Homo sapiens: one gene and its partner. The protein of the gene in region 1 purifies or fractionates together with the protein of each later gene. This does not show direct contact. Each region holds a gene or a part of one and is shown in the gene's direction. Other genes may lie near its edges. The genes, in order: ZCCHC14 and ENPEP.

Region 1 (3,822 bases):
GCTGCTGTTTCCATCCTGTAGTCCAAGGTTGAGACTATTCCCAGATAAAATTGGCGTCTCTTAAACAGTTTCTCTGGACCCTCGATCGTGTCTTGGCTCACGTGGCACACGAAGTAACATGGCCGACCAGTTCCGTAAATGTGCTGCTGCCGGGGCCCTGGGGACCAGTGTCCAAGCACCTTTCTGGCTGGTGGGTGGCACTGATCTCATGTCACAGGGCATGACTGCTGTCGTCAACCTTGGTGGCCATGAATACAGCATTGAGAGGAAGGGCTTGAAGAAGCAGTGGCAGTCGGGCAAGAACTCAGTTGAATTAAAGCAGGAAGAATATGAGGCTCTGGCACTTCTGGCTTTTTTCCTCTAATACACATTTCTCTTGATTAAAAGTTAAATTTTTTTCTTTCAATTCGTCAGCAGGAATGCCATTTTAATGTTGATAAGACCACTTGTTTGCCTTTTAGGTACCTGGCCTCATTACCTTCTCACGTGTTGAAAAATGACCATGTCAGGAGGTTTCTCAGCACTTCCTCTCCCCCACAGCAGCTTCAGAGTCCAAGTGAGTTTGTAAAATATGGTTAAATATAAATTAAAAAAAAAAAAAACAGCTGGGCGCAGTGGCTCATGCTTGTAATCCCAGCACTTTGGGAGGCTGAGGCGGGCGGATCACCTGAGGTTGGGAGTTCAAGACCAGCCTGACCAACATGGAAAAACCCTGTCTCTACTAAAAATACAAAATTAGGCTGGGCGCAGTGGCTCACGCCTATAATCCCAATACTTTGGGAGGCTGAGGCGGGTGGATCACGAGGTCAGGAGTTCAAGACCAGCCCGGCCAATATGGTGAAACCCCGTGTCTACTAAAAATACAAAAAAATTAGCCAGGCGTGGTGATGCATGCCTGCAGTCCCCGCTACTTGGGAGGCTGAGGCAGAAGAATCACTTGAACCCGGGAGGCGGTGGTTGCAGTGAGCCGAGATTGCACCACTGCACTCCAGCATGGTTGACAGAGCAAGTCTCCATCTCCAAAATAAAATAAAAATACAAAATTAGCCGGGCGTGGTGGCAGGCTCCTGTAATCCCAGCTACTCAGTAGGCTGAGGCAGGAGAATCACTTGAACCCGGGAGGCGGTGGTTGCAGTGAGCCGAGATTGCCCCACTGCACTCCAGCATGGTTGACAGAGCAAGACTCCATCTCCAAAATAAAATAAAAATATAAAATTAGCCGGGCGTGGTGGCAGTCGCCTGTAGTCCCAGCTACTCGGGAGGCTGAGGCAGGAGAATCACTTGAACCCGGGAGGCAGAGGTTGCAGTGAGCCGAGATCGCACCATTGCTCTCCAGCCTGGGCAACAAGAGCAAAACACCGTCTCAAAAAATAATAAAATAAAACAAATATTTTCATTGTCTGTAAATTTTTATGGTATTTATTTTTAAATTTATAGGTCCTGGCAATCCCTCCCTTTCTAAAGTAGGTACCGTGATGGGCGTGTCTGGAAGGTGAGAAATCTTCTATGTAACCAGCACAGTTCAGATAAGCATTTTACAATGTTTACTTTGAGTTCTGTGTAAAGTTGTTCCAAGAATTAAGTCATGCTCAAGTTGAGTCTTGGATGATATTGAGAAGAATTGAGTAGAGATGATTGAATTTACGATTTCCAAAAAAAGAGTTCTCTAAGCCACTGGAATCAGAATTCCCAGGGACTCCTCCCCAGTGCAAGGTCCTGGGCCCCATCATAGACGTAGAAAGTCAGAATTTCCGAGAATCTGGCTGTGAGAAACCTGCTCCCAGAAGCATAGGGTCGTGCTCCTGAGGAGCGTCCTCTGTCCGCACGGGCCCTGGGTAGCTGCAGTCGTATGCCGGCAACACAGAGGCTCCCATCTTTGCTGACAGTGAGGTGGGCTGTCACAGATCAGTGCACACGCACCCCCATAGGGAGTCTCGTGGAGATGTTGTCTGGGCGCGAGGTTTCGAGGCGTAGACTGGCATCCTCCTGGTGTCGGGGTAGGGTAAGCGCCCAGTCAGCAGGTGTGACTTTGCAGTTAAGGAGCAAGGCCAGAGTGGAGTGCCGGTCACACCTTCCAGCCTTCTGCGTTTTACTTTTCTAGAAAAATTGTATTTGAACATTAAAGATTTAATAGTCTATTTTGATGTATGATTTATCAGTGTCATTCTGTGACTTAGAAGTAACAGAAATACCTATCGGAGTAGCATGTTTTTAAAAAATACAAGTAACAGAAACTTGGCAGCTAAAGCAGAAGTCTGGTGGGGACAGAGACGTACACATACATAATACACATACGTACACACAAGTAGACGCATACTCCGAAGCACGGGCAGAGGCATGTGTGTGTATATGCACAGCCGCCTGTATGCACACGTGTGCACAGACATGCATTACAGAAATCTTAGCTGCAGAAAGGTGGTTGGGGAGGGAGGGCAGTCATAGCACAGCAGTGTTGGCAGTTCAGGGTGGCCTGTGACAACAGGGCCGGCCAAGAGGCAGAGGCTGGCACAGAAAGGCCTGGAAGTGAGGTCTGTGGTGGAGTCTGTGGTTGTGGAAGCCACAGTCTCTCTGTGTCCCTCCTGCCCCTGTCCCACAGGCCTGTGTGTGGAGTGGCTGGTATCCCGTCCTCGCAGAGCGGAGCCCAGCACCACGGGCAGCACCCGGCCGGCTCCGCCGCCCCCTTGCCTCACTGCTCCCATGCGGGCAGCGCGGGCTCAGCCCTGGCCTACCGGACCCAGATGGACACATCACCTGCCATCCTCATGCCTTCCAGTCTGCAGACCCCTCAGACCCAGGAGCAGAATGGGATTCTAGACTGGCTTAGGAAACTGCGTTTGCACAAGTATTACCCCGTCTTTAAGCAGCTCTCCATGGAGAAGGTATGTCGGTTTTCTGGCTGGCCGTACAGAATTGCTAGATTGTTTACTCAAGACCTCCCTGGGGGCATTGAGTTTCCAAACCAACACAAGGTGGATGAAGTACGGAGGCCGAGGCGCAGCGCCTGTTCTTAAGGGAGACGGTGGGCTTTGCGGAGGCCGCCTGCAGCTGCAGCCAGCCACAAACAGGACATGTTGTAAACAAACAGCTTGTCTAGGGGCTTCAAGACCTTCACAAACTAGATGCTCTGCGTGACGGGAGGGACAGTCCGTCCCCAGAGCCCTGCTGTGGACAGAAATCCTGAGCTCTGGCACGGTGCCCCTTTTAGACATTTCTCGGCGTAGCTGGCGCAGACACTGCGGCGGGCCAGATCTAGAGGAATGGGTGCATTTTACATCTTCCAAGCAGTCGTACCTAGAGAATTCTTATGAGGAACATTTTTTCACTGTTAAAAAAATTCAGAAATTTCTTAAGTCTTGATGTCAGTGATAAAACTAGATTAAACCCATACAAGGTATTTGAGCTCTGGACTCCCTCTGCTGGGCAAACCGGCTTGGTGGCTTTTATCTATGTAAAAATTTCATTTCTCGAAAAATCTACAATTGAACCTAGAAATCAAGCTTTTACTACATAGTTAAATCCAAATTGTAAGTATATTTGTAATACCCTTTGTTTAGGATTTGTGAATGTTTTTTTCTTTTTTTGAGATGGAGAGTCTTGCACTGCCACCTGGGCTGGAGTGCAATGGTATGGTCTCGGCTCCCTGCAACCTCTGCCTCCCGGGTTCAAGCGATTCTCCTGCCTCAGCCTCCTGAATAGCTGGGATTACAGGTGCCCACCAGCATACCTGGCTAATATTTTGTATTTTTAGTAGAATCAGGGTTTCCCTATGTTGGCCAGGCTAGTCTCGAACTCCTGACTCATGATCTGCCCACCTCGGTCTCC
Region 2 (3,822 bases), on another chromosome or scaffold:
TCTATGCCGACAATATCTTGGGCTCAAGTAAGCCTCCTGCCTCGGCCTCCCAAAATGCTAGGATTACAGGCCTAATCAACCATGCCCAGCCTGTACTGTGTTCTTATCTGATGAATATATAATCTTGTGTTTCCAAATAAAGATGAAAGTATGTGCACAAAATGGCAGAGCTTGGTAGTGATGGAGCCACAAATAGCAACGTAGATCAGTTGATTTCAAAATCGGCATTCATCCCAATACTTGCTCTGCCTCCCTGTCATCAGCGAGTTAAAAAATAATAGGGATAAATGATGTTGTAAGAGCCCCATGTGCTTCCAGTCTTTCCATTGTTGTACAAGGCAAATTCTAGATTCCCCAGCAGTTTAATGAAATACTGGTGCTCCTTCCAGCAATAATTTTTTCTAATACAGAGGGAGACATGCATTCTTCATAAAGCAAAAGTGGGGCTACAACCAAAATGGTGTGCATATGACATTTCTATCAATAGTGGAAATGCTTTATTAATAAGCTCGAGAGCTATTAACAAAGACTTTAAATATAACACCCATATAGATGTTTGTAGGGATGAAATGAAGGCAGTAAGAAAACAAATTAGCCAACAGTTGGCCTCCCTGTATCTGTTTCTGCCTTTACTTTAATAACTTATCAATGCACACAAGGGGAATGCAAAATTCTCTGCATGGGAATGGCTGTGGCTCAGAGCAAGCTTGTAGATGCTGCATGTCTCTTCAATGGATACAATTCTATTTTTTGATTGCTTAACAAATGTTAGAGAAGGAGCTGGAAAAAGAAACAAGTTTTCATCAAAATCAGAATATTGGGCCAGGTGCAGTGGCTCACGCCTGTAATCCCAACATTTTGGGAGGCCCAGGCGGGCGGATCGCTTGAGCCCAGAGGTTCAAGACCAGCCTGGCAACATGGTGAAACCCCATCGCTACAAGAAATACAAAAATTAGCCAGGTGTTGTGGCACACACCTGTAGTCTCAGCTACTCAGGAGGCTGAGGTGGGAGGATCACTTGAGCCCAGGAGGTTGAGGCTGCAGTGAGCCATGATTGTGTCACTGCAGTCTAGGTGACAGAAGACCTCATCTCAATTTAAAAATATCAGAATAATATTTAATAAAATATTGTACACATGAATTTAAAGATCCTTTGCCTTTTATCTCAGTTGTAGCACCCAGGATAACCTGAGAAGTGGAAATCTCACAAATTTATTACTCTCTTCTCCTCTCTTTCTTTCTCCCTCTCCCCAACTCCTTTATTCTGTTTTATGTGCATTTTCAACCCTCTCAGAATTAATTATATCTTAGACTCCTTAGAGGTGACTTCTGCATTTATTAGACTCCAAAGAGTTAAATATACAAGAATTAGTTAGTTACAATGCCAGTACTGACCAAAAAAAAAAAAAAAAAAATGAGATTGCAAAAAATTCCTTTTGTTCAAGGATTAAGTGCAAACTGCACTCCACAACATTATGAAAAATATTGGCCCTTGGGGGAGATACTTCTCTACTTTTGAAATGACTGTCTTGTGATAAAATAACCAAACCTAAAAATGAGATAACATGAAAAGGAAACTACTATTGTAATCTTGACCTCTACTTAAGATACATCCCTCTTCATTCTTTTATAAAAAGCTCTAAGAATATTTATTTTGGCTGGGTGCGGTGGCTCACGCCTGTAATCCCAGCACTTTGGGAGGCCGAGGCGGGTGGATCACGAGGTCAGGAGATGGAGACCATCCTGGCTAACACGGTGAATCCCCGTCTCTACTAAAAATTCAAAAAATTAGCCAGGCGCGGTGGCGGGCGCCTGTAGTCCCAGCTACTCAGGAGGCCGAGGCTGGAGAATGGCGTGAACCCAGGAGGCAGAGCTTGCAGTGAGCCGAGATCGCACCACTGCCCTCCAGTTTGGGCAACAGAGCGAGACTCTGTCTCAAAAAAAAAGAAAGAATATTTATTTTAACCAGAAAGAAAGGGCCTTCTCTTATATGTTAAGTGAAAAATCAATTTGTTTTCATTTCTGTGCCTCATTTAAATTATACATAATAATAAAGAAATTACATTCTGTTTACAGTTCATTAACTGGGGAAGCTGTATTTTGGCCACTAATCATCTGAGCATTTTCTGTCTTGGGATTTAACATAGAACTGATCAACACTGCCTCCTCCTGTCAGATATTATGTGTAAGACTATAGAAACTCCTGTCCAACATTTTAGAACTGTAAGGGAATCTAGAGAGAATATAGTCAACTCCATGTTTCTCCAACCAATTTAATACATAAAAGCGGATGATAAGCTATTAGATTGGTATTTCTATCAATATTTTATAGAATTAGAGAAAAATGGAGTTTTATATTCTTGAATAATCTGTGTCTTTGGATGGAAAACTGTATCTATACACTTGGAAGCTCAGAACTTCTAAATACTAATTTGAAAACTTCTCTTTTTCCTCACGGCTTATCCCCTAAAACACATGTAGCTAATAAAAATGAAATACAGAGAGAAACAAAAGACATAAAATTATAGAGGCATTGCCATTAGTGTCCTTCTTTAAAACAAAAACAAAGCATTGATATCTGGAGCCAGCAGGGAATGCTCTATGGAAACTTTGAGTGCATTAGGACTGAAATGTTCGCACACATGATTACAGTTCTTTACTCTAAGAAATTATTTTTAGGCTTTTAAAAAACATTCATCCAAATAACTTAATTTGGTAAGAAAAGCTATGAACAAATGGAAAGAATGTATTTCTCACTGGACTCTTTCTTCTTCTATAGATAAAATCGCTATTCCAGATTTTGGCACTGGTGCCATGGAGAACTGGGGACTCATCACGTACAGAGAAACGAACCTGCTTTATGACCCTAAGGAATCAGCCTCATCAAACCAACAGAGGGTGGCCACTGTGGTTGCCCATGAACTTGTGCATCAGGTACAGAATCTTAGCACTGAATCAGCTTGTTTTTTTAAAGTGGCTTAAGACCACAGGAATAATTCAAATTATTTATGACTTAGCAAATAAAAAATAGCCAACTCAGAAAAACTTGCATGAAAATCTTTCTTGGTACTAATAAACATTTAGCCATAAAGAGACTTTGAACCACATTGTTTTGCCTTTAGGAAATATGCACGAGGCCTTCATATAAATTTATGTACCCCAGTAATAACTAAATAAAGGCAATAAACTAAAGACAATTTAATATCATTTAAATAATCAGAATAAAGCAGGAAATAAATGTTAAGTACAATGCCTGCCACTTCTGTCACAGTGACAACATTGGCACGGACAAATAAATGTTTTGACATTTTCTAGGCCTCTCTACCATACCCATAAGAATGTAATTATCTCTTTATTGCTTATAATTTCAGTGGTTTGGAAATATTGTGACCATGGACTGGTGGGAAGACTTGTGGCTAAATGAAGGATTTGCTTCTTTCTTTGAGTTTCTGGGAGTAAACCATGCAGAAACAGACTGGCAAATGGTGAGTCCTAAACACATAAACTTGAAATCTCTCTTTTCCTCATGCAAAGCAGATGGAAGCCTTTGGACTATGATAATGGTCCCGAGTCAGATGGCAAGTACAGTGGTGAGCGGGGAATTCCACTGTGAGGATAGGGTGGAGCCAGCTGACTTCCACTGACTACACCTTGCCCCAGTACCTAGAAGGGCAGCTGATCATCACAATCTGGGGATATCCTTGACAGAGTCACTCAAAACACATTATCAAGGCAGGAAAAAAAAAAAAAAAACAGGTGGCATAGAAAATGTTAACTCTGTGTTCCAGAAAGTATCTATAGCACTAACCCTTTGAAAAAATG

The links.
Region 2: the proteins of ZCCHC14 (region 1) and ENPEP purify together in Homo sapiens (affinity purification with mass spectrometry; one large-scale study listed by BioGRID and IntAct). This does not show direct contact.

What each region holds. Positions count from the first base shown.
Region 1 is NC_000016.10:87,416,517-87,420,338, reverse strand, and holds part of ZCCHC14 (zinc finger CCHC domain-containing protein 14), read left to right. Parts: intron 1-461; coding exon 462-556; intron 557-1,437; coding exon 1,438-1,492; intron 1,493-2,596; coding exon 2,597-2,879; intron 2,880-3,822.
Region 2 is NC_000004.12:110,506,874-110,510,695, forward strand, and holds part of ENPEP (glutamyl aminopeptidase), read left to right. Parts: intron 1-2,779; coding exon 2,780-2,934; intron 2,935-3,371; coding exon 3,372-3,485; intron 3,486-3,822. UniProt on the Homo sapiens protein: Regulates central hypertension through its calcium-modulated preference to cleave N-terminal acidic residues from peptides such as angiotensin II.